Linked DNA regions of Homo sapiens: all the other regions are linked to region 2. The links come from fine-mapping of genetic effects on gene expression. A gene starts in region 2. Each other region holds a variant in brackets. All regions are shown on one strand. Distances are between the middles of the regions.

Region 1 (7,702 bases), 200 kb before region 2:
TCATTTTTGAATAATAAAGGCAGACAACTTGCGACTAGCATGTGCAACGTAGCGGGACCTCTTCTCTATTAAAAATAAAAAACTTAGCTGGGTGTGGTGGCAGGGTGCCTGTAGTCCCAGGTATGTGAGGCTGAGGTGGGAGGATTGCTTGAGGCAAGAGTTTGATGCTGCAGGGAGCTATGATCAGTCATTGCATTCTAGTCTAAGCGACAGAGCAAGGCTCCATCTCAAAGAAAAGCAGACTATATGCATTGTAGACTATTTCAGAGATAAGAAAAGCTATGAAAAAATAAAAATAGTTTGTAATCTCACTGCCTAGAGGAAGTCTGTCAGATTTTTTGTGTATTTTCAGTCTTTTTTTTTGCATTTATTTACTTTTACATAGTTGAGATTATATTGTATATCCTTTTTCATTGAACTTTATATTTTGAATCAACATGTTACCTTTTAAAAATGAATGTGTAATATGACATTGAATTGCTGCACCTTAAATTAACCTGTTCTTTATTAGCAACAGTTTGGGAGTCCCTGTGGAGCTGTCTTTGCTGATGTTTGTTGTTAAGAATGGCATGCTGTCTCATTTTATTAATCATTTGTATTTTTTTCTGTGAGTTGTTGATTCATGTCTTTTGTTCACTTTCGTTCACTTTCTTTGGTGATTTTATCAAGTTACATGAAATCTATATGAAAAATACACATCTCCAGTCCCAGTCTGGGCAACATAAAATCATTTTTGGCCTCGGCCTCCCCAAATTGCTGGGATTACAGCGGCGAGCCTTGGCACCTGGCCTCAGTTACTTTGAAAAATTGTCTTAGCTTTTACCTTTTCTTTGTTCATTCATTCATGCATTCAGGTACTCCCTGAGTGTGCTCCCAAGCACTTTGAAAGAAGTCATGTCTCTCAAAGAGTTTATAGGGCAAATAGAATTTAGCAAGCCAGGATAGCTCAGCAGAGGAAGTACAGGGTCCTAGAAGGAGCATAGAACCTAATCTCATTAGGAGATTTGGAGAGGACTTTTGGTGACATCTAAGCTGAAACTTGAAAGAGAAGAAGGAATAGTGTTTCTATTAGTGAGAATTTTATGTGTTAAAAATCCAGGGTGGAGAGACCAAGGCATGTCAAATAACCCGAGAGAAGTCAGTTGGTTGGAGTGTAGAATGAGGACTGTGAGAGAGAACCTGTAGGGAATATTGGGACTATTTAACCTGGTTAAATAGGTTAATTCCTTAACCTGGTTAAGGAATTTAGCTGTTAACCTGAGGGCAGTGGTAAACTTTTTTTTTTTTTCCCCCTGAGATGAGATCTCACTTTGTCACCCAGGCTGGGTGGAGTGCAGTGACATGATCACGGCTCACTGCAGCCTCAACCTTCTTGGGCTCAAGGGATCCTCTCACCTCAGTCTCCCAAGTAGCTGGGACTACAGGTGCATGCCAGCACGCCTGGCTTATTCTTTAAATTTTTTGTGGAGATTGGGTTTCTCCCAGGCTGGTCTTGAACTGCTGAGCTCAAGCAGTCTGCCCTCCTTGGGCTTCCAAAGTGCTCAGATTACAGGTGTGAGCCACTGCGCCCAGCCTAGTGGTCAACTTTTGAAAAGGGAATGCCGTAATTAAATTTGTAGTTTAAGAAGACCACACTCACCCTAGTGTAGAGGGAGCAACACTTGAGATGGCAGACCAGTAGAGTAAATGATAGCAACTTAGGTATAGCCAGGTATAGCTGGGGTAGAGTCAGTGGAGATGGGGAAAGGGAGATTTATTTGAAAAAGACTGAAGTAGAATTGGCAAAACTTGGAAGAATTGATACTGGGCTGAGATGAGGAGGAGTTTAGAAAGCCAGATTTTTGGTTTGGACATCTGGGTTGGCTAACAGTATCATTTTTCCTGGACATAGGAGAGGGAAAGTTTAGGTTTTTTAAGAGGTTTTGTGGTGAGGATGCCTGATGGATTATTGGATACATGGGGTCTGAAACTTTTGGGGATGGATGCTTGTGGGGCTGTGAGTGTCTACAGAAGCCATGAACTTTCTTTTTCAGTGGCAAATTATAGGAGCTTTCTTGTTTAGTGTTTCTAATTGGAGACCTTAGTAAGATTGACTGGGTTACTTTTGAACATTTCTTCCAATTTGATGATTTTCTGTCTTAATTCTGTCTACTTTTGTCTAGAAGAATTAAATGTATATAATATGAACAGTATAAAGTTATAATAAATTATGAAAGTTTTTCCTTTTATCCTTTCTTCCTTGCCCCTGCTTCGTTTTTTAAACAGAGACAGGGTCTCACTCTGTTACCCAGGTTGGAGTGCAATGGCGTGATCATAGCTCATTGCAGCCTCGAATTCCTGGGCTCAGGTGATCCTCACAAGTAGCTGGGACTACAGGCATGCGTCACTATGCCTGACTAATTTTAAAAAATTTTTGTAAAGATGAGATCTTACCATCTTGCCCAGGCTGGTCTTGAAATCCTGGGCTCTAAGCGATTCTCCTGCCTTGGCCTCCCAAAGTGCTGAGATTATAGGTGTGAACCACTGCACCCAGCCTCCCATTTCCACTTTTAAAATGTTCATTTACCCTCTAGTAAAAAAAAGGTGGGCTAGACTATTCAGTTTCTCTCGGCCTACCTGAGATATAGTGTAATTATAAAAATCTAAAATTTAGTTTCAAATTCAGCCAGGGTAACTTGGCAGTGTGGCAATTGAAATTTTTATTTTGAAGTCAGAAAAACCTTTGGATGTGATTTCAGTGGTGAATGTGGTTTTGGCATACACTATTTTATGAGTTTCAAAATCTACTTTTGGAACCTAAGAGTTTTTGTTTTGTTTTTTGTTTTTTTTTTTTAGACAGAGTTTCGCTCTTTGTTGTCCAGGCTGGAGTGCAGTGGCGCAATCTCGGCTCACTGCAACCTCCGCCACCTGGGTTCAAGCGATTCTCCTGCCTCAGCCTCCCGAGTAGCTGAGATGACAGGCGCACGCCCCCACGCCCGGCTAATTTTTTTTTGTATTTTGAGTAGAGACAGGGTTTCACCATGTTGGCCAGACTGGTCTTGAACTCCTGACCTCAGGTGTTCCACCCACCTCGGCCTCCCAAAGTGCTAGGATTACAGGCGTGAGCCACTGAGCCCAGCTGGAACCTAAGATTTTTAAGAACCGTAATTTCCTTTCAGTTGAATATTTTCAGTAATGTTTTAAGTGACTCATGATGTGAACTCATGTTCATCTGTTTCAGCCCTGTTAACATTTGTCCCCATCTCTGATCACTTGTCCCAAAGATAACTTTGTGGCATGTTTCCTTTAAGTCCTGCCATGTTGCTTTCAGCAGCAATTCTTCCTGCTTGGCAGGATCTTCTTTCTTACGAAGTTATCTGTTAGGTTAGGTATTTTTTCATGACTTTGGGGACTTATATTTTCACAAGAGTGGGTTGTTAACACTCTGATCAAAGATGTAAGGAGAAAAGAGCTCAGTAGTATAGACTATATTTGACATAGTTTGTCACAACTTACAGATAATTTAGAAAGCTTTAATTAGTGACTATTTGACTTCCTTCTCTCATTGAATCTTTTATTTTTCTAAAGAGGATGTTTTAGTAATGGACAGTGAGATTGTTGAATAGAAGCTAGTCTTGATATGTTATAGATTAAATTTAAGAATTTGTTTATAATTTTGATTTTCATCTGATTTTTTGAATAGGCTGTTGTTTTGTAGCACTGTTACTAGGAATAGAAATAGTGGATCTTAACTTGTTGCTATTATTATGTGGAAAATACAACCAGGAGGTGTTTTGGCCTGCTCAAATTATTTCTGAGATTGTTCCTGTGCTTTTGCCTACTTGAAGGTACACTTTAAAAAATATTGAAGTCATTTTATTTAAAAAACAGCTCATTAGTTTTGAAAGAGTTTGCTGTGAATATCTCCAGGTTCAGGATTAAACTATAGCCAAATGCTTATG[A/G]TATAAAAAAGTATTACTGGGTGGTATAGTTTCCTTTTAATATGAAAACCGGTTAAATGAGTTAAACTCTGGCTAGAGGAAAACCACATCTGCATCTTTCTCTGACCATGGTAAAGGACATTCTGAACATTACCACTTAAAACTAACTTTTCTCTTTAAGGGTTCCTGAAATTGTGCCAGCCGACTCCAGGTCCACCCTGACCCCACAGCATAAACCATGCTGTGATGTCACAGCTACCATAGAACTCCAGGGTAGTGTTGGGCTGGCCCATGTGGGCTCAGGTAAGTCCTGGCTTTTTTTTTACCATTTGGCATTCTTTTCAAAGTTAATAACCATTATAATTTTATGTCATAAAGGAAAATAAGGCAAAACTTTGAAAACTGTGCCATATATGGGGGAAAAAATAAGTCTGTTTTCTAAATATCTATGAGCCAGCTCTAAATTCTAACCAGTGGAGTTCCATAGTAGCTGTGAAGTCCCCAGTGAGTCATTGACCTGTGGCTTCAAAATACGTAAACTGTACTCCTGGCCCAGCTTACGGAATAATATATGTTTGCTTTTTATTTTTTTTAACGGTTTAGCTAGTAATATATAATATAGTGGCTTTCATTCTTAGGCCTTCATGTTTTAAGAAGTGTATTAACACTTTATCTGTAATTATGTTTCACTATTAGGCTAATTGTGCATTTCATTCAATTTTGAATGTATGGTGATACTACAGATTAGTTTTATAAAATTAATCGTCCCAGAGTGGCTTCAGCTGTCCTTTTATTTGTCTTCATGAAGGAGAAAGGGACAGAAGGCATAATACACGTTTGTTAAATTTTCAAAAAAAGTACTAAGAGAAAGATGCTTTGGCTGGGCGTGGTGGCTCACGCCTGTAATCCCAGCACTTTGGGAGGCCGAGGTGGGTGGATCACCTGAGGTCAGGAGTTCGAGATCAACCTGATCAATATGGTGAAACCCCGTCTCTACTAAAAATACAAAAATTAGCTAGGTGTGGTGGTGTGCGCCAGTAGTCCCAGCTGCTCAGGAGGCTGAGACAGGAGAATTGCTTGAACTCGGAAGGTGGAGGTTGCAGTGAGCTAAGATCGCGTCACTGCATTCCAGCCTGGGTGACAGAGCAAGACTCTGTCTCAAAAAAAAAAAAAAAAAAAAAAAATGCTTCAGTTACTCTTGGAGGCATTGTGAGATGTCAGTAACCTAGAAAACATGTATATGTTGATTATCTTCTCTTGGAACTTTTCATTTTTTCCTGGCCTTTCTCCCATAAAGTGAGATTTTAACACTTGCATTTATTTGTCTTTCCCTGTCTACCAACTCTTCTACCTTATTCTTACGTTCTTTTTATCCCCTGACATTAAAAGGTGCTCAAAGTGTAATTATGTGAAGAACTCAGATATTGTAAGGTTTTTTTTTTTTGTTTGTTTTTTTTTTTTTTTTTTTTTTTGGGCATGTATTATGATGCTTTTTCCCTGCACTTCACTTTAAGTAGAAAACATGCGGTGGCTAAAACTTTAAATTATATGCGTATGGGCCAAATCCTGTTGAACCAACCACGTCTACAACAAAAACGTGTCTATGAAGTAATGTCTAAACTTTCAGAAGTTCTCTTTGAGCAGTGTGCAATAAAGACGTAGCAAAAATTGGGACAGTTCAGTGACATTTTCATGAAATTTGATTTGTAATTTACTAATCTTTGTAGCTGAAAATGTGCAATTCTTAATGAAAAGAATGAAATTACGTATTCCCCAAACACTAGATAATAAAATAATTTTCTTTTAGATATTATTTTTTACCTATATTTAAGTGATGTGTGTTTTTCATGCTCTGGGAAGTTTGGAGAATTTCGTGCTGTCAAAAACTGAGAATAGTCTGTTCTCCTCATCTTCTGTATGTCTGCCATGCTGGGGAATGGGCAGTATGCCCGTTTGTAGTTTAATGCAGAGCATGGAGTAGGAGGGACTAATTAAGTGTTTTTGATAATTTTGTATTAGGTCAAATAGAAATCCTAGTTGTGTTTGTGTATATCGGCTTTATTGAGACATAATTTCACATACCATGCATTTCAACATTGTAAGTTCTGGTTATATTTTTAAAAAGCACTTAATGAAAGCAGAATTGGTGATATTATTGTACATTATAGTTCCAAAGTACAGTCTGCTGATTTTGTTGTGCTATGTAGTCTGCACCCCACCCCCCAGTGCTCATTAACTTCTAATTACAGAAATCTCTCAGAGACATTAGAGAGGAAATCTTAAGAATTTCTAAGATGAGATTCTTCTAGACTTCAGCTATATGGTGAGTTAGCTAAAAACAATAAAGCGATTTGAAGATCTCCCCTTCTTCCAAGCAAAAGAAGGAAGTTATTTGGTGCTTAGCTTTAGATTACCTCATCTCTGTCTTTGAGAAATAAGAAATAAACATGAACACATATAGTACAAAACACCTACATACATGCATACACGTATATACACATAAATTGTACAGATCTTCCTCTTTGCTTTTTCAGCTAAATTGATCAGACTCTTGGGTTGTTTTTGGAAGTGTTTGGAACATTTTTTATGTAATACGAAAAAATTTGTAAGTAGATAATATTTTTAGATTAGAACTAAAGACTATAAAAGGTGCCTTGATGCTATGTATACCTGAGAATAGTCAAGGGCTTTGATAGGTCTGAAGGGAAAGGTCGTTGCCTTCATACAGAAATGCTATGAAGTGAAAGGAGATGGTGTGGGCATGGTCAGTCCTAAATAAAATAAAACTGCATTGAATTATCTTAAAAGTTATGGGCCCTACCAGACTATACTTAATTGTTCATTAAATAATTTAAGCAGAAGTTTCAGAGTTCTTTCTGTATTTGAACATAATAATTGGAAACAGAAAACTCTTCGATCATAGAGTTGTTTTTAGTTCAAGTAGCACTTTCTGGTCTATTTGAAAGGCTTGCCCCTTTGGGAAGATTTATAGCCTTTATCTCATGCCATCCTTGATTAAGCTTTAGCTTTGACTTCTCTAGGGTACACTGTTCCTCAGAAGGATGTGTAAGGTGGGTGGAGGTGGGGCATTTGTAGCTGAACTTGTATATGCATGGTGAGGAATTTATCAAGCTACATTGCTGTGAAAATAAGAATTCCTGTAAGAAGGCATTCTTAATATAATGGGTTTTCAACCTGAAGAATGTATATGTCTGTGTTCGGGGCAGGGGGTCATTTTTTTGAGGAGAGGATCGAAATTTGCAGAAAGGACTGTTTTGAATATTGGAGTCATGTTTTCACTGTCTTTGTACTTCTCATATTGCCTGGCAAGGCGTTCCTGTATATGATGAGGATTCAGTAAATGTGGGAATTATTTTGAAGCCTTGTTATCTTTACTAATGGTAGAAAATTGTTGCATTTTATCAATCTGTTATATTCTAAGGAATATGTCTGATCTAATTCCTAGTTCAAGATGGCAATTAAAATACTCTTTTAAAAGTACACTAAGAATATTTTTTTACCTAGTATTAGTGTTCTGTCCAGCAAACACATTTGTCTTGATGTAATTTAGGAAACACTTAAAAGTATTTGGTCCCATAAATAATTTTTTAAAAATTGTTTTAAACACTTTTTGTGGTAAATTGGAAGCTAATCTACTGTTTCTTTGCCCAGGCTGATACCCATACTTTACCAGACTGCTTAGTAGACAGTATTACTGTGTTTACCTAACATTAATTTGTGTTAAGATTAATAAAATGGTTCAGTGGTAATGGAATGTTCTT
Region 2 (7,702 bases):
CTGTTGGCAAATGGCATTCTGGTGCTAGATCTCAGCAGGGCTACTCCCTCACTCAGAGGTGTCCTTTTCGGTTTTTTTTCAATCCGTGAATCTCAAGGATTTCAAATAGTGTGAGCTGTTTGTATTTTAACAGCAATGGTAACAATAAAAATATCATTTTAAAATCCAGTGCACTGCTTGTTCAGTACATACTATATATATTCATCATTTCTTTGCCTTGTAGCTGGCTACTCAGAAACTAAAAAGTTGTAGGTTGATTTTCTGGTTTTGTTGTTTGTTGTTGCTGTTTGTTTGTTTCATTTAATCTCTCTTTGAAACATTTTCCAGACTTAAAAAGTAAAATTTCTGGAGTTTTAAAAGTTAAGACTGAAGTTATTGATTATTCTCTGAAAGGGTAACTGACAAACTAGTTAATAATTATACAGATAGCAAGTTTTACCGTTTCATCTTGTGTACACGACCAGATTAACAATGGCAGGGAAAGCACACACAACTTGGCAGGGACAGGAACAGGTGTGCCCCGACTCTCAAAAGGCCAAAATATCTCACCAAGTATGTCACTGGCGTGTTTTTTACAATGGCAGTAGTGTTTGTTTTTAACTAGCCAAACGTTCTTACTTTCTTAACTTTAGAGAGATGTACTTTACGAATATCTTTCTCTTCACGGAATTGATGATTCAGTTCCACACATAAATTGCAACTCGTGCAAGGAAATGATTTTTAGGGACAATGAGGCTTTTTAAAATCAGTTAAGAAAAGGTAATTCACCCTGCCCCTCCCCGCAGGAGAACACCCATTCAAGGGTCAGTTTCAAAGCTCCCAGGCGAAACCGTAAATAACTCACAGGGTTCTGCATTCAACCTGCAGACTCTTATTAAGGTACAATTAGAGAGGGGGTTGTCAGGTGGGGGTTAAAAAAAAAAAAAGAGCGGGGGGGAGTCGGTATTCTTTACCTTATCTTTCTGAACAGGAAAAAGAATTAAACCCAAACCACCTAGTCAGGTTCAAAACAAGCTCCAAACCCAAGATCTTTTAATTCCCTCTAATAACTGCTTTCCACAGGGATGTAACTGGGGTCCCCTACCCCTGGGGCACAAAAAACCAATCAGCGCCATAAATTCCCTTTGCCTTCAACCCTCTCTCCCTTTTACAGGGGGGCAGGGTAGGGGGAGGGGGTGACCCAACATCAACACTTACACTCTACAGAAATATGCTGGCTTATTTCCTTTGTTTGCTCATGTTATACTTGATCAAGTGTGAACGATTAAACTGGTTTCATTAAAGGCAAGTGCATTCACGGCTAACATCCAACTTCAATGGCAACTGTAAGCATATTTTGCAAGAAAGAGGGCCTGTTTTTTTGCTTGAAATCTACCATCTCATTAACTTTTCTTTTGGGGGCAATAAAAAGGGCACTAGGGGTTTTTCAGGAGAATGTCAGAGCAGTTCAGAGATCTGATGCCAGACAAAAGAATATTTAGCGTTTCAACTCTACGATACAGTCTCTGCTAAAGAAAAAAATTCTGTTTCAACATTAAAGCAGCTATGACTGAAAATGTCTAATTAGCATTTTGACTATTACTTTATAATTGCTGTAAGAAGTATCCTTTGAAATCAAGTGATTACAAAAACAAGATCCTTTAAAGTCTCATTACTTCAAAATAGAAAAGATTTATATTTAAAAAAAAAGGGGGGGGTTAAAAACCTCAGAATTCTCAAAGTACATGAAAACTACCCACTTCTACTTGGAAAACCCTCGAGGCAAAACAGCAATCTTAGGTACTGAACACGAGGTAATTTTTAAACTGTCTTCGAACCCAAACACCTAGTAGAGAAAGCTATCTTTTTTGAAAGGGTGGTATGAGTCGATATATTTCGCCCAAGTTAGAAAGGCAGAAAGAATCACTTTGTAAACTTCCCCAAAATATAACGTCCCCTCAAAATTATCCATGTCAGATAAAAATATACCAGTCTCTAGAATATCCAACAGAATTGCAAATAAGGCGTTTAGCATTTTAAATTCCCAATGCATATTTATAGAATAGAATTCTCTTGTCTATCCTTCCAGCCACTCGCATCAGACTCTCTAAGAACTTAACCCGATCTCCAATCTTTAAAGAAAAAAGGGGGTAAATACACAGAAGGATTGTTTACCCCGGACAGGGCAAGGAAGCCCGGTATGACGACGTAGGCCATTGCCAGCAGCCTCCACCACGAGCACGCAGAGCGGGGATTTCTACGAAAAATTCCTCCTCTTCCCTATAAAATCCTAAACGTGGGGTCCTCTGCAGCCAACTGCCGCTTGGGCCGCCTCCGGAAAAAGTACCGGGCGGGGGGAGGGGGGACAACCACAAACACTCGCGCGCACACGCTCACTCCGTGTCCGCGACCGTCGTCGCCGGCGGAAAGCGAGCCACGGGAGGGAGTGTGTGCGCGCGTGTGTGTCTCGGCGCGGCCCGCGGTGACCGAGCTGAGCTCTTGGGCCCGCGGCCTCCGAGCCCCAGGGCGCGGCGTGGGCTGCAGGCGACCCGCCACGCCGCTGGGCCTCCCGCGGGAGAAAGGCCCAGGCACGCCCCGGCTCCCGCGCGCCTCTGCCCAACTCGCCCGGGGCGCTGGGGGCAGCGCGAGGGAGAGAAAGAAAGGCGCTTCCCCTCGGCCGCGCGGGGCCGTCCGGCGCCGCGGAGGGCTGGGAGGAGGAGGAACCGCGGCGGCCCGGCTGTCCCTGCGCCGCACCGGGTCCCTGCCGCCCGGGGCGCGCCCTAGCCAGCCCCTCCTGCTAAACTTTTTCTTTTTGATTCGCCCCACCCGAAAAGTGCGGCCCGGGCGGGGAAGGTGGGGGAGGCGGGCGGGCCGGGCTCCCGGCGGCGGCGGGCGAGGAGGAAGTGGTGCCCGCGGGAGCGCGGCCGGGCAGAGGAAATGCCCGGCCCGCCCGGCCCCCGCCCGCGCCCGCCGCCCGGCCCGCCCAGGCCCCCCGCCCCGCCGCGACTTTGGCGGGCCGAGCCCCGCGCGGCAGTGGCGGCGGCGGCAGCGGCAGCAGATGTGGCCCGGCTGCCCGGAGGAGCCAACAATGCGGGGCCGGCAAAACAAAAGGGTTCCACTTCGCCTCCTTTCCCGTCTTTCACTTGCGCTCCCGGGGAGCCGCGCGGGATCCCCCGCCGGCAGGGGCAGCGCCCCTGGGGACCGAGAGCCGCTCACGCCCCGACTTCCCCACGGAACCCCTCTTCTCCGCGCCCCCCCCACCCTCGCCTCGTAGGCGCAAGGCCCGCCGCACCCCGGCGCGCTCGGACTCCTGTTCCCCGGAGATCCGGCCGTATTGTCCCCGCGGCGCGTCGCGCGCTCGGCCTGGGTCGCCGGCGGCCCCCGGGCGCGCACCCACCGGGCTCAGGGAGCAGGAGCCGGGGGCGCCCAGGGAACCGTCGCCGAGACGCCGCCGCCGCCGCCGCCGCTGCCCTCCGGACGCCGCCGCGCTCGGGGTTTCTTTTTTTTTTTTTTTCAACCCTGATGGGAAGGAAGGTGACCGCCTACTTCGCATTCATCAACTCTCATCACAACAACAAAAATCCTGGCGCAAACGGCGGCCAGCGGGCGCAATCGGTGGCGGGGGCGGGCGGGGACCCCCGAGCCAGCGTCCACCCCCGGGCGCCGAGGGGGGACACGAGGCCGGGGGCACGGACCAAAGATGTCCTCGGATGCCGGCTCCGCGTCCTTCGCCCTCTTCCTCCTCCTCCTCCTCCTCCCTGAGTGGCGCAGTGAGGCGCGGGCGCGGCGCCCCCAGCCCGCGGCCGCAGGTGAGGCGGGGGCGGCGGCGGCCCCAGCCCTCCCCCGGGGCCCCCCTTACCTCGTCCCGGACGGTCGGCGTCCACGGCGAAAGGCGCCCACCCTGGAGGCGGCGGCGGCGGCGTCTCCCGCCCCTCCCACCCCACCCGGCGGCGGTGGCGGTGGCGGCGGCTGTGCGGCCCCCCCTCAGCGCGGCATGGCTCCCGGTTCGGTCCCTCGCTCCTCGGGCCGCCGCCGGCTCCTCCGGGCCGCTCCCGAGCCACCTTAAAATGACACACGCACACAGGGACACACACACAAAAACTTAATCTCTCCAGCTCCCCGCCCCTCCCCCTCCCGCCCTCCCCACCCTCCCTCCGCTCCCCTCCCCTCCCCACCCTACCCCTCCCTTCCCTTCCACCTCCTCCCCTCGCCGCCGAGCCTCTTCCTACTTCCCCACCCACCCCACCCCCTTCCTCCGCCCACCCGGTTCCCAATTCCCCCCGCGTCCCGGCCCCGCGCCCTCCCGCCCGCCGAGAGGGGGCTGCGCTGGGGGTCCCCGGCCCGGGCCCGCCCCGCGCCGCGCTCACCCCCGAGAGGATGCTAATTCCAACTTGGATCGGGGGAGGGAACGTCCTGGATGCCGAGCGCCTCCCGGCTATTTGCTCTTCTTTATTTGTTTTCTCCTCCGGGGAAGGAGAAGGAAAACGGAGAGAAAAGGAAAGGAAAGAAGCGGCGCTGGCCGCAGCTCCCGGTACCCGCTGGCTGCGCAGGAGCTAGGCGGGAGGCGAGGTGAGGGTCGCCGCTCGCTCACTCCTCGCTCCTGTTTTTGGGGGGGGGGGGCAAAGGCGGGGTCTCTTTTTGCAAACCAATGACACAACCCCACATGGGCCGGCCTCGCCCCCTTCAGATACTCCTCACTACAAATCGGCTCTCTCGGGGGATTAGTGGCTCCGCGAAAGTGCACACAAGCGCGGCGGGCGGGAGGGCCAGGGGCCGGGCGCGGCGGGCACTCCCTAGCCCGGCCCCGCCCGGGAGGCCCTCGGGAGGCGCGGGGGCCTCGGTGGCAGGGGCCGAGGTCCTGTCGCGGTGGCTCGGGGTCCGCTGCTCCCCTGGCCCTTCATCCTCCTCCGCCCCTTCCACGTGGGGTACCGGGCAGCCGGCCACGTGGGGGAACGCGAGCCCCGGGTGGCCCCGGTCCCATGGGGCCCCGCCCAGCCAGCGGCGCCAACCAGCCCCCTTCCCGGCCCCCGGGCTCCAACTTCCTCCTGGTGCCCCGCACCGGCCGCTTCTGCCTTCTCAGGCCCGCGGGGTCAGGCGCGGGCCGGCCACAGGGGGCACTTGCGCTCCCCAAATCCAGATCCGGGAGACCGTGCCGGAGAGGCGGCGACCGCTGTGGGTGCGCAGGGAAGGGCCCTCTGTGCTGCAAGTTGCAGCAGTGCTGTGCCCTAAAAGAAGCAAAACATTCTTACACATTGAAAAAAAAAAAAAAGGTTCCCTCTTGCTGCCTGGATCTCGCCGGGGCATTTGAGAAGCCCTGTGTTGGGTCGGAGCCCCGGGTCTCGAGGAGGGAGGCGCGCTGCGGCGTGGGGGCCCGCGACTCGGGGTCCTGGGCTTGCGCGGCGGCCCGGAGCCCACGCCGTCCTGACGTCTCAAGGTTGGAGTCTGCACAGCGAGCCTGGGAATCCAGGCCCAGCGGCCGCTCGCGGCCCAACGAGCACCTGGGCTAAATTCCCCGCCCGTGACCCGCGACGTCCGAGCGCCGTCTCCGGAAGGGAGCTGGTGGCCGTGGAGTGTGGGGTCTTCTCCCTGCGCCCCAGGGCCCCCCAAACTCTTCTCACTACCCTGAGTTCGGCGTGCGTCCTCCAAGAATCCCTGGGTGGGCTGAACTGAGCCCTTAGGATCGATTTGTTTAAAAACCCTATTGAGATATTAGGAGCTGGATTGAGATGTCGAGCAGGAAAGGAGTGGGAGGGGTCTGAGGTCCCGCCTTTGGAGGCCGCAGGGACCGCCATTCCGCGAACCCAGCCGCGCGGTGTGGTCTCCTCCATCCCTGAGTGCCCCGCGCCCTGCAGAGCCGAGGAAACTTACAGCCAGGGCCAGGGGGCCGGAGGAGAGGCCACCGAGCTGCACGACCCTTTTCTGCATCCCAAAGAGCGTTGCTCCAGGCCTCCCAGTCTTCATTAAACATTTCTTAAATCCTGCCCCAGCCCGCCGCGGGGCTTGTTTGCCAAAGCGCACCAGGTGCGTTGCGGCCTGAGCGGCCTGCAGTGGAGGGGCCGGGACTATCGAAGATTGCTTAATCACTCAACAAGATTTTAAAACGTGATTGAAGACCGCCTACCTGTGAGGGCAGCGCCGACCAGGCTTTTCTTGCCCGCTAGTCCACGTAATGCGGTCGCTAAGAAGCCCGCAGCAGGGTTTTCGCGTGACCTTCATAGGGCCTGGCCAGGCCAGCTGAGGGGCGCGCCGGGCTGCGCTTCCATCGAGGAACCTCCGCACATGCAATCACGGTTGTCTCGTCTTCTGGCAACCCTGGATCTCCACAAACTGATCTTCAGGGTGCTTCTCTCTTCAGCAGTTTTGCCTCAAGGGCATGGCGCCTCAGCTAGTTTTTGGCTGTAAACAAACCGCGGCCACCGCCAGGCTACCGGGTTACCAGTACCTGTTCTTCGGAGTTTCTTAGGCATAAACTATAAGAACTACAAATAAAGATTTTCTGCTTCCTTATTTCACAGAAGTCTTTGGTTCTGAGTGGTCTTCTTTTCTCAGGAAGAAACCACAAAAAGCCTGATTTTCCATATCACTCCTTCACTTTCACGTGTTCTATAAATTTGAATTCTGACTTAGAAAGTATTACTAACATGTTCTTGGCCGGGCACGGTGGCTCACGCCTGTTATCCCAGCACTTTGGGAGGCCAAGGCGGGGCAGAACACGAAGTCAGGAGATCAAGACCATCCTGGCCAACATGGTGAAACCCCGTCTCTACTAAAAAAAAAAAAATACAAAAATTAGCTAGGCCTGGTGGCGCATGCCTGTAATCCCAGCTACTCGGGAGGCTGAGGCAGCAGAATCGCTTGAACCAGGGAGGTGGAGGTTGCAGTGAGCCAAGATTGCACCACTGCATTCCAGCCTGGGCGACAGAGCGAAACTCCGTCTCAAGAAAAAAAAAAGAGAAAGTATAATTATTATTATTATTATTGAGACGGAGTCTCAGTCTGTCACCGGCTGGCGTGCAGTGGCGCGATCTCTGCTCACTGCAAGCTTCGCCCCCCGGGTTCAAGCCATTCTCCTGCCTCGGCCTCCCAAGTAGCTGGGACTACAGGCGCCCGCCACCATGCCCGGCTAATTTTTTTTTTTGTATTTTTAGTACAGACAGGGTTTCACCGTGTTAGCCAGGATGGTCTCTATCTCCTGACCTTGTGATCCGCCTGCCTTGGCCTCCCAAAGTGCTGGGATTACCGGCGTGAGCCACTGTGCCCGGCCGAGAAAGTATTATTAATATATTATTTGTTTTGAAGACATTAAAAGCAAGGCATCCTGAGAGCTGAAAAGTATTTCTCACTTCACTTTACCTGCATTTTAAAATATGGAGCTCATTTGCCCCCAACATGTGAATTATTTCATACTATTTTTTTTAAGATGTTGCAAACAAAAAACCCAATTCAAAAATGGCCAAAGACTCAATAGGCATTTCTCCAAGGAAGGTAGACAAATGGCCAACGGCCAGTAAGCACATGAAAAGATGGTTGGCCTCACTGGTCATTAGAGACATGCAAATCAAAACCACGATAAGTTACTACTTCATGTCCACCGGGATGTCTTTTATCAACAAAAGAGAAAAAAACGTGTATTGAGGAGGATGTGGAGAAATGGGAACCCTTGGACTGGCACAGTGGCTCATGCCTGTAATCCCAACACTTTGGGAGGCCAAGGTGGGCAGAT
Region 3 (7,702 bases), 150 kb before region 2:
TCTCTAGCAACTTCATCTGGACCAGCGCGGCTGCATCTAGACGTTCAGCAGGGTGGTGGAAGGCCTTACCTGCCACACTACAGACGCGCATGCTTGCGCCCCGTGCACATACAGGGCAGACACCCTGCGGGGCCCGCCCAGGATGCAGCGAGAGCCTCAGGGCCTCTTTTCTCTCTTTATTCTGTGCAGCAAACCCAGCAGGCTCCGAAGACCTCAGAGACAGAGAAGCAGCATTTTCTCCAACAAAAACTGCCCCCTTCAAATCCATCCTTGGATTTCGTAGGTCCTCCTGACCATCTGCCCAAACCTCACATCTTCAAGACCCACACCCTGGACACAAGAGAACAACTACCTGAGTTCCAGAGGTGCAATCCGCCGAGATGCCAGGAAGGGGCAATGTCTCTTGTCAAATTAGAACTCTTTAGCCTCAGATTAAAACTTTGGGGCTCATCAACTTTTCAGATATCCAGATCAACCCTGACGGCGGCCTTACATCCCCATCCCCTCCCTCCCTCTGAGGCTGGACGGTCCAGGCCATTGCTCCAGGCTGAGCCCAGCCTGGTGACCCACCATGGGTAACCCAACCAGGAAGGTGTGACATTCCCGGGATCACTGGCCTTTGAGCACAAGGCAGCAGGCTCAGGGTCCCACAGGCAAAAGCAGGAGCCTTCCACAAAGGCCAACTTCATCTGTGTGGCCTCGCCTTCCATCCCTAACCTCCTCAAGGGCTCTTAGTAGTCCCCAAGCTGGCCACTTGGTGGGGACGATGACTGGGACCCCAGCCACGGGGGGGCTCCTGCTGGACCACCAAGGCTCATATTCCGTTAGCCACACGCTCGGAGACGAGGAAGGAAATCCCCCTCCACTGGGGCCGTGACTGCATCCTGTTAAGACTATACACGGTGCTGGGGAGGGACGGCCCAGAGCACCTGCACCAGCCCTGCATGGAAGGCCGTGCTCGGCCAGTGGGACTTGGGATAATTGTCTCTTTGAGCACAAAGTACAAAAAAGGCTTTTGTCCCAGCCTCAGAAGAATGGGCTGGGGTAGCCAGGTCCACAGCCAGCCCCGCATGGCCCCCAAGCTAAGTGCAGTTCTCCTGCCACCCCCGGCTGGGAGAAATCATGGCCCCTCTCAGCCCTGAGCGGCAGCTGCACCTGACGCTCAGACACCAAAGGCACACGTGCACCCAGTCACTCCTGCTGCTGCCCCGACACCCAGGTCCCCAAACAGGGTGTCCGCATGGATCCGCACTCCAACATCCTTCTGCACCAGGAAAACAGGGCAGGGGAGGGGGAAAATAAGGCAGGGACGAGGGCCAACACCCCCGTGTCCTCACCAGCCCACGACCTGTATGAGTGGACAGGAAGCGTGCAGCACAAAGCTGGATACCCCCTCAGCTCATCCGCGAGATCCGCAACAGCACCGTCACCTGACGAGGAACCCGACACACATGGCTCCCACCTGGGCTCCTGTTTTCTGCTAAGAAAATGGTACAACTGCCAAATTCCACAAGATTCCTTCTGTTTCAGTACACTCTTCTGGCCCCTACTTGAGGTCTGAGCGCACAACCCTGTGGGGCCTGGAAGTCCTGGTCTCATGCCCCAGGCGGTCGCCCACACACAGTGAGGAACACCCCAACTTCACTTTCAGGGGTGCTGGCAGGATGGTTATCGGAGAGAGTGCCTGATTATAAGAAATCCAAGCTGTTCGTTAAATGGTAGCCACACAGGAAAACCACGCTGGGCGCAAGGTGGGAATCCAGAGCCGCTGATGCGTCTGGGGAGCCTGAGAGGCCATTGTCACAAGATGTCCATCCGCAGCATCATCAGTGCATGGATCCGTTACCAGGGTAACAAACTCCAGGTTGCCTAGCGATCGGCTCCCTCCCCGACACGGGTTGCCTTTCTCCTTGGTGAAACCCACCCTCTACCCTCCCTGATGGCCGGGCACGCAGAACGTGGCTGAGGCTGGCCCGAGACCTGTCCAAGGTCTGAGGCTCGAATCCTGGCAGCAGGTCCTTCATGGCAAGGCGGGAAAAGAGAAAAGCCAACGGGTTCTCATGCTGGGAAAAGATGCCGGGCACGACGGCTGGAGGTGGGGGGTTGGGAGTGGGTGGGATGCTTGCGTGCCCTGCATGAGGTGCAGGGATATGGAGGCCACAGGAGACCCCCAAGCCCTGGGCATGAGAGCTTAGCTGGGACAATGCCAAGGTTTGCTCTAGAAGGGAAAGCACCATCTTCCAAGTGCTCCTTCAGTCCCAGAAGGAAACTGTCCACCCACACACCAGAGAATCTGGACTGAAATTCAAGCCCTTGCCTAGCAGCCGCTGCCCTACAGGCTTGCTGGAGCCTGGGGCAGAGGTTTCTGGAAGAGCTCATATGGAAGATCTCATATGGAGAGATGAAGGTGCAAACAGATCCCCCATCTTACCTCACACAGGATTCCTGACGCCTCTTTCAGGCTTCTGACCATTTGAGCAAGTTTTTAACCTATTAGGATGTAACTGACACACAGAGTAAGATTCATATACATTAAGATGGAACACGACCCTTTCAGGGACGTGGGGTCCCCAGGCCCAGTGGGGCAGGATTGGGAATTTGCGAGGAGAAAGCCCAAGGCGCAGTACGTAATGAGGGCTTCCGAAGAACTGGGCTTTATGCTAAAAAGCCATGGCTTCCAGTTGCTATGCACAGCTGACGGCCTTTTCCATGCGTACAGACCACAAGGCTGACAAGAGTCCTGCAGTGCTGCTGTTCTTCCCACTTCACAGCCCGGGAGTCAGCGCTCAGGGTGGCCCCGTACCACGGTGCGCAACCACGAGGTATGAGGAGACACTTGCGGACGAGGGTCACAGGGCCCTGGTGCCCTCTATGCGCTATTTTTCCTTTCTACCGTCTCCCGCCAGTAAACCTGCCTTGTCCATTTCAGGACAATTCCAGCTGCAACTGGACACATCACGGAAATGACATCAGTGCCTTACTGTTGACAGCTTGCCCACATTAACTGTGTAGAGCAGAAAGCCCTGCCGGCTCCCCTGGTATCAATTACTATCTGGTTTCAGGCTTGCGTGTGCACCAGGACGGCCCTGCCCCTCCGTCCGGGATGTGCTGTGCACCAGCTCAAGGCAGTGCTGACGCCCATCCCTGGGCCTGGTATTGCTTAGAGCTGCAGCTGCAATAAATACTTGTGAAATGAGAGATGCTCAGTCAAAAACAAAGACAACACCAGGCCAAACTGCTGGACTTTTGTGAACAGTAACCAGACACCCAGGAAAAGCAAAGTGCGTGGATCTCACAGATCCTAAGGCAGGTAGATCTCAGGGAGGATGGCGGAAGGATCCGGAGCTGGAAAACGCTACATTTCATTGTGGGGAGCTGCTGCTTTCTCGGATACAGGCAGACAGGCCTGGAGTTGACCTTCTGGCTCAGTACCATGCAAGGCAAATGGGATGTTCCCCTGAGCAGTCACCAAGAAGGAACTGGATTGATCCTGCCACACAAAGCTGCCTGCAGTGTTTCTGAGACCCATTTTCCAGTCTTCCTAGACACTGTGTGAGCTAAGCCGACATCCTTCCAACAGAAATTCTCATTATTTAAAAATGATCTAAATGGGTTTCTGTTGCTTACAGCACAAGACAACCTGCCCCAGGGTAAAGGGTTTCAGGATTTGAGGCTTCTACCCCAAAGCAAAGCAGCTGCAAATGATCATTTCTGACATAGGAGGCAAAGGCTGGCTCTGGCTTTTTTTTTTTTGGAGACAGAGTTTCACTTTTGTTGCCCAGGCTGGAATGCAGTGGCACGATCTCCGCTCACTGCAACCTCCACCTCCCAGGTTCAAGTGATTCTCCTGCCTTAGCCTCCCAAATAGCTGAGACTACAGGCATGTGCCACCATGCCTGGCTAATTTTGTATTTTTAGCAGAGACAGGGTTTCGCGATGTTGGCCAGGCTGGCTTCGAACCCCTGACCTCAGGTGATCCACCTGCCTCGGTCTCCCAAAATGCTGGGATTACAGGCAATAAGCCACCGTGCCTGGCCGGCTCTGGCCTCTTTTTTTAAAACGCACTAGATTTTATGGAAGTTTCCTGACACCGTAGCAGTCTCAAGACACCAGTGCCTGAGTCACTCCCTGTTCCTGACAGGGGCTACGGCTGCCCAAGGACAGACACTGGCCACATACCCCAGGGTTGCCCCATGAAGTCCCTGCAGGTTGCAGTCTTAGAGCTGACCGAGCTATCACATTCATGAGAAGAACCGCTGCTCAGAGTCACAGTAGTGGCCTTGCAGGAGGGAGCCTCTGTGGAATGAGGGCAGTTGCTGGAATTTGCCGGGTGCC[G/A]TCACCAGCTGCCCTAACACAGATGTTGTAAGAAGTACCTGGATCCTTCCACAGACGGGAGATCCAGGCAGGTCTTCCAAAGATCCCGACAGAAGGTGTCAGAGTGCTGCAAGCAGCTCCGAGCTGTACAGAGTAAAGCAGAGGTTCCTCTTCAAAGACTTTCCTCCCCGTCTAATTAGGAATAAATACTAACTTCTCTTAGAGGCAAAATTTATTCAAAGATCTGTGCTAACATTCTTAAATATTTGCTAGCCGTAATAAGGAAATCAATGTACGTTATGTTCTTAGCTCCCGCAATTTAGCCTAAATATTTGCCTTAGCATGCTTATACTGGTCCAAGCAAGCATTAGGTCATAGCCTGTTCCTCTTCCTTATTTGAAGGTGTTTTTACCTTTCTCAACATTCCACAAGTTACTTCCTCCTTCCTTTGTTCCCCTCTACCTTTGCCTCTTTAAAAAAGTTCTAAGTTGCTAGCCAATCGGGACAAATAGAGAATGTGAGGTCCCTTTCCAGCCAACGGAAACTGGACACAGCGGTAGGGTGGACGTGTCAGGTTATAAATGACCCTGTGTCCTTTGTTGGGTGAACTCTCGTGGGAAAACTGCTGGAGAGTGTACCCTTTCTGCAGAAAGTAAAAATGGCCTTACTAAGTAAATTAAATTTATGTTCAAGTGCTATTTCTTTATGGCACCGGGGAACGAGCATTCCAAACAGAGCCAAGCGATTCACGGCTTCATCAGCCCCTGTGACCTGCAGGTGGCCTGGGAGGCAGGAGGAGCCTAAGCAGCCGGTGTGGCTCCCAGCCTCATGCACAATGATCCAGGAAGAAAGAGGAGACAAAACCACACAAACTCCAGAGGCCGGGGCGGGACAGGGAGTGACCCAACACAGCCGAACCTGAGGCCCCGCCTGCCTCCAAGGAAGCCCCACTTAATATCCCACCGATCCCACCACCCTCAGAAAAGCTTCCTCTTAAATGCGGCCTGCTCCCCAATTAAGTGGCCGCTTTCTGCAATCCAGCATGACCCGATCCCCACTGGCTGAGCTCAGCAGACCTGATTTCTAGAAAGCCAGACACAGAATCAGAACTAAGGCCTGCTAACAGTGTTATTTCAGAGGCTTGGGTTTCTACAACATAAAACTGAAAATCGTGACAGGGCCAAGCTGGGGGCCAGATTCTGATGCTGGGACGTACGCAAGTGCCTCTCAGACACTTGGCGTTAGACTTGTAAACACAGCTGCCTCAGTGGGTCTACAGGCCAGCCCAGCACACAGGGCTGTGGAGCTCTGAGTGGGGGAAGGCGGTCTGTGGGAGCCTCGTGTTGTCAAGGTAAGAGATGTCTCCCTTGCTTTGTAAACATGTTTAACCATGTTATAAAAGCTGTTCTAAACCGTCAGACGTGGGATCTAAACAACAACAAATGTTCTGCAGTTGGCTGATCTGGAAAGTGAGCAAGCCACGGTGACTCCCCCTCCTTGTGTCCCCAGCAGCCGGGAAGGTGCCTGTTCCCACGGCAGCTGCAGAGAAGACTGCGGGCAACAGGCATCTCCCCTCTGCCTTTCACGAGAAGGACCACAGGAGCAGGGTGCTGATGAGCGGGTGGCTCCGGGAGCAGCTTCAAGGCATAATTTGGAAGAAAATCTGTGTTGCTAAGAGTGGCACTATTTTAAGGTTAAAAAAAAAAAAAAAAAAAAAAAGCAACTGCTATTGGAAATCTCAGCTTTGTTTCTACGTTGTTATCTGCTTTTTCATTTGGCAAATGGGCTTTCTCTCTGTGTTGCTTCTGGGAAGCTCTCCCAATGCTGCGTCCACTTCTTTGCCCAGCTTCCCAGAGGCTGCGATTTCATTTTACAGTCTCAGTAATGTATAGGTAGTATGTGCTCCCCCAGAATGGAGAACCCAATCCTTGAGTTTTAAGTATCACCTGACACGCCCAACAGATTCCCTGGCTCATGTGCACACTCCTCCTCCCACCATGCAATGCAAATGCGCAACCCTTATCTCTCTTTCTGCATTCATGGCAGACATCACTAATCGATCCCCACATTCTTCCTGAAGCCAGGACCTCAGCCCTGGAGTGGCATCACACACACCAAGCTGTTGAAGACCTGGCCCAGCTGAAAATGATTTAACTCAACCTTGGACAAGGACTGGCCTGAACCAGGCACTGGAAGACAGCATGAGGAGAGAATGAGAGAGCAGCGTGGTACAAAATGAGTGCCGGGGAATTTAAAGCATGAAGCACACCTTCTAAACTTAGAAAGCGGTGATGGCTGTGCCATCACCGTGTACATCCTTAGCAGCTATAGGGATTATCCTTATTTTTCCTCCAGTGAGGTACAACCAGGTAGGAAAAAGCTCACAATCTGCAGCATATTCAGCCAGCCCACTCCTCACACTAAAAACGCCAGGATCTTAATCTTCCAAAGTTGGGCTCTTACTTGTGAACAATTTAAAAGGGTTTATGGCAAAGGTTTCATGTGAATTATCCCTCAAGTTCCCCCTGCTTTTCTGTAAGGAGGGAAAAAATCGAGTGTTGGGAAATCTAGCTTCACCAAGGCCTCTGAGCACCCAGGGGCTGTGCTGTTTGGGGTGCCCCACACCAAGTGGGCTCCCCAGAAGGCTGGATGTGCCCCATGGGGAACCTAGTTTTAAGCTACTCCTCGGCTTCTGAGTTTGGCATTCTCTGCAAAGTCAGCTGGAGGTTTGGTGAAGAAATGGCCACAGGAACACCCTGATAAATAGATTTGCTTCTTAAATAAAACATGTATCTGAATGAGTCACGATGTGACACATGAGAGGCTCCCAGGTAATCTCCCTTGTAGCTCAGGTGACAGCTGGACACAGAGCTGGCGAGGCAGGAGGCTCCAGGTACCCCTGTCTTTATCCAGCCAGTCAGGTGCAGTCTGATGCTCCCCAGAGCCTGGGCCATGTTCTCAGGCCCCCAAAAGCTTTCTGGGTGATCATGTTAATAACGAAGAGCATGTGTGGTATCTTCCAGGGTTGGAAAGAGATGTCCAGACCCACACCATCAAGTTCAGAAAAAACACAAAATACAAACCCCCCTGAAAACGAAGCTCATCTGCAACCCTAGAAAGACAAGCACGTGCAGTCACTTCAACGGGTTCCTCAGAGCCCCTGGGGAAGCTGCAGCCCGCACCCTGCAGTGTCCGCGCTATGCGGAACGGAGGAGCACAGCGGGCCCAGAACACAGGAAAGTGACAGCTATTTCCCGGTTTGTAATGGAGTTTAAAATAAAAACAAAACCAAGAGTGATGTTAGGTGCTTGAAAGTGTTTTTAGGCACTGGTGGCTTTTTGGAAGCCCAGACACCGTCCTGTTGGCTGCCTCTGGTGTTGAGTGTTCA
Region 4 (7,702 bases), 270 kb before region 2:
TTAGCCAGGATGGTCTCGATCTCCTGATCTTGTGATCCGCCCGCCTTGGCCTCCCAAAGTGCTGGGATTACAGGCGTGAGCCACCGCGCCCGGCCATTTTTTTTTTTTTTTTTTTGGTAGAGACGGGATCTTGCTATGTTGCCCAGGCTGGTCTTGAATTCCTGAGCTCAAGCAATTCTCCCACCTTGGCCTCCCAAAGTGCTGGGATTACAGGGATGAGTCACTGCACTTGGCCCTTTTTCTCCTATTCATCTGCCTTTTGTGAGCTGATTTTTTTTTTTTTTTTTTAGCAAACCTTTAGAGCACCAAGGGGAAAGCTCTCCCTTGGCCCCTTCACATGTGACAAATTATCTTCATGGCAGAAAATATGTAACAAATTTAATTTTTATCATGTAAATTGCTATCAGTTATAGTGGCAATCTTTCTCATCTCTTAAAGCAATAGCTAGAGGCACAGAGTAACATAAATAGCTGGTATTATGCTTCACACATATTATATCTGGGCCCTACATAGACACGTTTAAGAATAATATGCGAAGTGGCTCATGCCTGTAATCCCAGCACTTTGGGAAGCCAAGGCGGGTGGATCACCTGAGAGCAGAAATTCAAGACCAGCCTGGCCAACATGGTGAAACCACATCTCTACTAAAAATACCAAAATTAACCAGGCATGGTGGTGTGCACCTGTAGTCCCAGCTACTCGGGTGGCTGAAGCAGGAGAATTGCTTGAACCCGGAGGTTGCAGTGAGCCGAGATTGTGCCACTGCACTCCAGCCTGGGCGACAGAGCAAGACTCTGTCTCAAAAAAAAAAAAAAAAAAAGAAGAAGAAGAATATGAACTGTGTAATATTATACAATGTTCCTTGGTGACCATATGCAACTGTTGTGAAATGTACACTAATCTGTGAATGCCTCCCAAGCCCAAATTCAAACATGAGGAGAAGAAATGCAGGGACCCAGGACTACTGGGAAATAATATTTCCATGAGTAAGAATCGGTTGTATTTATGCTATTTGACGATTTGACAAATTGAACAACCTGTCTTTCTCTGGCCTAAGGTCTTCCCTTGGCTAAATCGTCTCTGCTCTCTGAAGCAGTGCCTGACTCCAATGCTGGGAGCACCACAACCCACAAATCTCCAGGATGACCAGACAAGGTCACCTTCTGTTCAAGGTCAGGGGCCAGGCCTTGCGGAGAAGCATCTCTCCAGGCCTGACACATCCTAGTCCTGGCTGGTGGTGTTTACAGTGCTGACTTGTGCTGGGCCAATGCTGAGTACAGGATCCCACGGGGCCAAAACACCCCGGTGCTCCTCAATACATGTGTTTCATGTGTATGTTTGTCACGTATAAGGCTCATGGAAAGGGCCTCTCATGCCTGGGTGTAAAGGGAAAGACTTTTCTGTAAGCGCAAAAATGCAGCCCTGTTTCCTGCAGGGAGTAGAGTGGCAGACACTGAGCAGCATCTGCTAGGTTCCAGGCCCTGTGCTAAGCCCACTTTCCTTGCTTACTCCCTTTTCTTCCCTCTCCCTCTCCCTGCCCATCCCCCGCAACCTGCTTTTTTTTTTTTTTTGAGACAGAGTCTTGCTCTGTCACCCAGGTTGGAGTGCAGTGGCACACTGCAACCTCCTCCTCCCGGCTTCAAGCGATTCTCCTGCCTCAGCCTCCCAAGTAGCTGGAATTACAGCAGTGCATCACTATGCCTGACTAATTTTTGTTTTTTTAGTAGAGACTGGGTTTCACCATGTTGACCAGGCTGGTCTCAAACTCCTGACCTCAAGTGATCCACTTGCCTCGGCCTCCCAAAGTGCTGGGATTACAGGTGCAAGCCACCGCACCCGACCTTTTTTTTTTTTTTTTTTTTTGAGATGGAGTGTCGCTGTAATGCTCAGGCTGGAGTGCAGTGGCACGATCTCAGCTCACTGCAACCTCTGCCTCCTGGGTTTAAGCAATTCTTGAGCCTCAGTCCCCCAAGTAGCTGGAACTACAGGCGTGCCACACCAACATGCCTGGCTAATTTTTTTTTTTTTTTTTTGTATTTTCAGTAGAGATGGGGTTTTGCTATGTTGGCCAGGCTGGTCTCAAACTCCTGACCTCAGGTGATCTGCCCACCTCGGCCTCCCAAAGTGCTGGGAGTACAGGTGTCAGCCACTGCCCTGGCCCATCTCTCCCTTTATGCTTCCCTCCCTCCCTTCCTTCCTTGAAAAGGAACCACATTGACCAGGCGCAGTGGCTCACACCTGTAATCCCAACACTTTGGGAGGCCGAAGCGGGTGGATCGCCTGAGGTCAGGAGTTCGAGACCAGCCTGACCAATGTGTTGAAACCCTGTCTCTACTAGAAATACAAAAAAATTAGCCGGGCATGGTGGTGTGTGCCTGTAGTCCCAGCTACTCAGCTGAGGCAGGAGAATTGCTTGAACCCAGGAGGCGGAGGTTGCAGTGAGCTGTGATAGCTCTACTGCATTCTAGCCTGGGTGACAGAGCGACACTCCATCTAAAAAAAAAAAAAAAAGAAAGAAAGAAAGAAAAAAAACACATGCAAATAGTACCATATTGCATTCCCTGCACCGTAACACACCCAGGGCAGGACTACGGGAGTGCCCTGGCTGAGAGGAGGGAATGGCTTCAGGAGAACCCAGAGCTCCTGGGATTTTGTAGGGAGGAGAGACGTGGGGACACAGGACTCTGGAGCTTGTCCCAGGATGAAGCTCAGCTCCGAGGATGGTTTATTCCCTTTGCCATGGCTGCCTAGGCTCTCTGACTCTTAGACTGCTGGGGTAAGGGTGGCAAAAATGTATCCTTTAAAGACAAATTCAGGGCACTCAACAAATTGAATGTAAGAACTTTGTACGATGCTCACCATTTCTCTTATGCCCAGAAGACTGATATCATGGTTACCTAACATGCGTCTTTAAAAAAAAATGATTTTTTTCCTTGCCAGAATCTAATGGCGATGCCACCTCTGAAGCCCATGGGACCTGTAGTCAGGCCCAGCTTAGTCTCTCTGTGGTCAGACTCCTTATCTGTCAATGGGTGCTGACTGCCAGGAGCGGCAGGAATTCTGTGAGCTGGCCTCTGTGAGGGTAGCCAGCTCGGCATGCATCGGCAGCTCAGGGGACGTCAGCTCCCTTCCTCCTTCTTTTGTGAGTAAGGAGAAAGAAACAAACCTATATGTGCCTGTGTGAGAGTGTGTGTGTGTGTGTGTGTGTACGCACAGGTACATGCACACTCTTTGCAGGGTGTACTCATTTGCCAGGACTGCTGTAACAAACTCCCATACACGAAGGGCTGAAATCAATAGAAAGAAACTGAACTCTCACATTTCTGGGTTTTTTTGTTTGTTTGTTTGTTTTGTTTTGTTTTGTTTTGAGGCAAGCTCTTGCTCTGTCACTCAGGCTGGAGTGCAGTGGTGCAATCACAGCTCCCTGCAGCCTCGACCTCCCAGGCTCGAGTGATCCTCCTATCTCAGCCTCCCGAATAGCTAAGACTAGAGGTGCATACCATCATGCCCAACTAATTTTTTTTTCTTAGTAGAGACCAGATCTCACTATGTTGCCCAGGCTGGTCTCAAACCCCTGAGCCCAAGTTATCCTCCTGCCTCGGCCTCCCAAGGTGCTGGGATTACAGGTATGAGCCACCATACCCGGCCACTCTCACATTTCTGGTGGCTAAAAATCAGCAGGCAAGGTGTTAGCAGGGCTGTGCCTCCTCCAGAGGCTCTAGGAAGGGAGCCCTCTTTGCCTCTTCCAAGCTTTTGGTGTTTGCCAGTAATCCTTGCTGTTCCTTGGCTTGTAGACACATCACTCCAAACTCTACCTCCGTTGTCACCTGGCCTTCTTCCCTGTGTCTTCTTTGTGTCCTTTCCTCTCCTTATAAGGAATCTGGTCATGCTGGATTTAGGGCTCACCCTAAAACAGTATGAGCTCATCTTATGATTGCACCTATAAAGACTCTATCTCCAAATAAGGTCACACTCTGAAGTTCCAGGTGACACTATCAACCCAGTCAGTGTGCAGGTTTAAGGCAGAAAGCTAAGACTGTATTGTGAGATGCATCCCAAATTCAAATACATTAAACGTGAAAAAATGTACATCTTAAACTCCATGACATATGCCTCTTACACAAACACACTCACACATATGATTCAACAATGTAAGTGAAAAAATGTGTTCTCAAAAGTGGCCACTATAATCTTTTGGTGGGATCCCCAGTTAAGGTGCCTCAACTTTGATGACCCAAAGATACTCACATTCTCCAGAACTGTTGACATTTCTGGAAAAGGCTTTACTCAGGAGGAAGCGGATCTTGTGAAATTGCTAGAATCTGGCTTAGTTCATTAAATTGGGAGATAATGGTGGTGAAAATGCTTTGCAAGCAGTCAAATGTGATACAAATCAAGGTCAATGTAC[A/G]TGTGGGTGTACCCACTTTATGCCCTTAGGGAGGGTCATCCATTCCACACACATACACATAAACACACACACACAAAGAGATCATTTGAGGTCAGGAGTTCAAGACCAGCCTGACCAACAGACTCTACTAAAAATACAAAAAAAAAAAAAAAAATTTAGCCAGGCATAGTGGCACATGCTTTTAATCCCAGCTACTCAGAAGGCTGAGGCAGGAGAATTGCTTGAACCCAGCAGGCACAGGTTAAAGTGAGCCGAGATCGTGCCACTGCACTCCAGCCTGGGCGACAGAGCGAGACTGTTCTCTCTCAAAAAAAAAAAAAAAAAAAAAAAACGAAAAAAAGGCCGGGTGCGGTGGCTCACGCCTGTAATCCCAGCACTTTGGGAGGCTGAGGTGGGTGGATCACGAGGTCAGGAGATTGAGACCACCCTGGCTAACACGGTGAAACCCCGTCTCTACTAAAAAAAATACAAAAAAATTAGCCGGGCGAGGTGGTGGACACCTGTAGTCCCATCTACTCGGGAGGCTGAGGCAGGAGAATGGTGTGAACCCAGGAGGCGGAGCTTGCAGTGAGCCGAGATCGTGCCACCGCACTCCAGCCTGGGCGACAGAGTGAGACTCCGTCCCGAAAAAAAAAATCCTTTATCACTGGGGTAAAAGGGCAATTCCTCTGGGCTCATAAACACAAACTTCGTTGTTCATCAGGGGATCCATCAGCTCCCTCTGGGTTTATCTGCCTTAGAGCCCTACACAAGTTTCTCACATGGAGGGTTTTCGTTTTTATTTTGAGACAGGGTCTCATTCTGTCACCACAGTTGGAGTGCAGTGGTGCCATCACTGCCTACTGCAGCCTCAACCTCGTAGGCTCCTGTGATCCTCCCACCTCAGCCTCCCGAGGAGCTGGAACTACAGACATGCACTACCACACCAGGTTAATTTTGTATTTTTTGTAGGAGTTTTGTCGTGTTGCCCAGGCTGGTCTCGAATTTCTGGGCTCAATTGATCCATCTGCCTTGGCCTCCCAAAGTGCTGGAATTACAGGCATGAGCCACCGTGCCAGGCCCCACATGTACGCTTAATCTATGGAAAGAGAAGCTCTGTGATTTGGTCACGGCGTCATATACTATAGAATTGTGCATATTTTGCACTGAGTCAGTCATTTCAAAAGGAGTTGATAGAACTTTATGCCTGGAAGGGAATTTATTCATGATCTCATCTACCCCTCCCACCTTTAAAAAAAACAAAAGAGGCCTAGAGAGAAGTGGCTGGCCGGCCCATGTGCAGAGAAGGAGCTGGAAGCAGTTTGGGCTGAGGAGGCCCTGAAGGAGATTCTCTGAGGCTCGGCCCTGTGGTCCCCTTTCTCCATCACGCTGCTGAGGTTGGGGCACACACGTTCTCGTTTAGTCTTCACAACAACCCTATGAGGTGAGTGTATTATTATCCCCATTTTACGGATGAGTAAACAGAGGCCACCTGAGGCAATGTCTGGCTCAATACCACAGCTGGTGTTATACAGGTGACCCTGGAGCCACCACGCTGTCCTGCTGCCGAGGCAGAAACAGTGGAGAGGCAGGGGCACCCCATTAGGAGCCTCTCCACTCCCCATCCCCAGCATAAAATTTCAAAATAAACCAACTGTCTTTATAATACATAAAAGTAATCAATAAAGAGAATGTTCTGGAGCTTATGAAAGTGGGACAGGAATTGCAGGGTATGGAGAGGAAAGTTGTCATGTTGCTTCAGGGACAGAGGCATAATTAGGGGGGTCCAGAGGACAATGCCTCCTGCTCTGTGGATGTGGAGGCCACAGCCCTGTCTTTTCTGCTTTCAGAGTAGCTGACATCCATCATCTAGCAATGTTCCATTCCAGTAACTATATTTAAATTTAGCCATTGCTCCAGATGAAGATTCACTCTGATAGTAGCACCAGCGGTAGGGCAAGAGGCTGACTTCCCATGACCGAAAAATGAACCAGATCCTTTGTGCTCCAGAATTTTTTTTTTTTTTTGAGACAGAGTCTTGCTCTGTTTCCCAGGCTGGAGTGCAGTGGCGTGATCTCGGCTCACTACAAGCTCTGCCTCCCGAGTTCGCGCCATTCTCCTGCCTCAGCCTCCCAAGTAGCTGGGACTACAGGCGCCCACCACCACGCCTGGCTAATTTTTTGTATTTTTAGTAGAGACGGGGTTTCACCATGTTAGCCAGGATGGTCTTGATCTCCTGACCTCGTGATCCACCTGCCTTGGCCTCCCAAAGTGCTGGGATTACAGGCTTGAGCCACCATGCCCGGCTTTTTTTTTTCTTTTTTCAGATAGAGTCTCGCTTTATCGCCCAGGCTGGAGTGCAGTGGCACAATCTTGGCTCACTGGGTTTGAGCGATTCTCCTGCCTCAGCCTCCTAAGTAGCTGGGATTACAGGCATGTGCCACCACGTCTGGCTAATTTTTGTATTTTTTGTAGAAATGGGTTTTCACCATGTTGGTCAGGCTGGTCTTGAACTCCTGACCTCAGGTGATCTGCCCAGCTTGGGGGAGAATCTCTTAAAGTGCTGGGATTACAGGCGTGAGCCAATGTGCCCAGCCCAGGAATTTTTTCCCAAGACATCACAGTTCTTTCACACCAGTATCTTCTCCTACTCAGCTGGCTACTCACTGCTTATTATCTAAAGATACAGTAATGATTTTTACTGAATGAAACTAAGGAAACAATGTGGGGGAATTATGTATCGTGTGTTGGAATTATGAAACCATATTCCATGTAGGGATAATTTCTCTGTTGTATTCTGGAAGTTTTCTAGCACTCAATTGGAAACCATAGAGTATGGTGTACGAAGCTTTTGCTACAGAATCTCTTAAAATACAGACATGTCTCATGTTTTTCCTTTTCCACTTTTTCACCTCTCTAGCTGATTGATTTTCAGATTAAAACAAAATTCTAAAACTCCTTTCACAAAGCACAGACTAAAGCAGCAATTTGGAAAGGGAAATTATTTTGATTAAGGTTGACAAACAATCTGTAATGACATTGCTATTAGCAACCTTTTTTTCTGGATGAAATATTACATGCAAACCACATTTTAGAACTGGGAGTGAATTTAGCAATTAAAGTCACCATCATTTTAAAGCCTGCTCATGTGGTTAGTTATATATTTGGTATTTTTATGTACTGGGTATTACTAATCAGGCACATATTCTCAAATAGTGACAACGAAGTACAATATTCAAGGGAACATTATACAGACACGAATCAACCCCCTACACTGAGAGTTTGTAAGTACTCTGCAGATGTAAGTTCTTGGTT

Alleles and levels. Alleles are on the strand shown, and positions count from the first base shown. SD is a standard deviation of normalised expression in the study named. Not every link is listed here.
For the expression in cerebral cortex of the gene that starts at base 4,083 in region 2, allele A in region 1 goes with a lower level than allele G (small effect, 0.25 SD a copy in GTEx).
As copies of A replace G in region 4, the expression in nucleus accumbens of the gene that starts at base 4,083 in region 2 goes down (small effect, 0.17 SD a copy in GTEx).

What was found. PIP is the estimated chance that this variant, and not a neighbour inherited with it, causes the effect. A credible set is the group of variants that fine-mapping cannot tell apart.
Region 1: its variant is the best candidate, but not a certain one, in a credible set for the expression of CTBP2 in cerebral cortex (GTEx, PIP 0.59).
Region 3: its variant is the best candidate, but not a certain one, in a credible set for the expression of CTBP2 in whole blood (INTERVAL, PIP 0.59).
Region 4: its variant is the best candidate, but not a certain one, in a credible set for the expression of CTBP2 in nucleus accumbens (GTEx, PIP 0.51).

The regions. Positions count from the first base shown.
Region 1 is chr10:124,958,186-124,965,887 of GRCh38, forward strand. All of the region lies in intron 1 of ZRANB1 (zinc finger RANBP2-type containing 1), which reads left to right. Among named protein-coding and RNA genes, the nearest start is that of ZRANB1, 20 kb to the left of the region's middle. The variant A/G (reference allele first, on the strand shown) is at 3,942.
Region 2 is chr10:125,156,481-125,164,182 of GRCh38, forward strand. It overlaps CTBP2 (C-terminal binding protein 2), which reads right to left and starts at 4,083. Exons shown (of 11, transcript NM_001329.4): 1 at 3,839-4,083. RefSeq lists an enhancer at 4,854-5,463.
Region 3 is chr10:125,004,210-125,011,911 of GRCh38, forward strand. The region is part of intron 3 of CTBP2 (C-terminal binding protein 2); the gene reads right to left. Among named protein-coding and RNA genes, the nearest start is that of MIR4296, 25 kb to the right of the region's middle. RefSeq lists an enhancer at 3,643-4,148. The variant G/A (reference allele first, on the strand shown) is at 4,336.
Region 4 is chr10:124,889,183-124,896,884 of GRCh38, forward strand. No RefSeq gene overlaps it. Among named protein-coding and RNA genes, the nearest start is that of ZRANB1, 49 kb to the right of the region's middle. The variant A/G (reference allele first, on the strand shown) is at 4,409.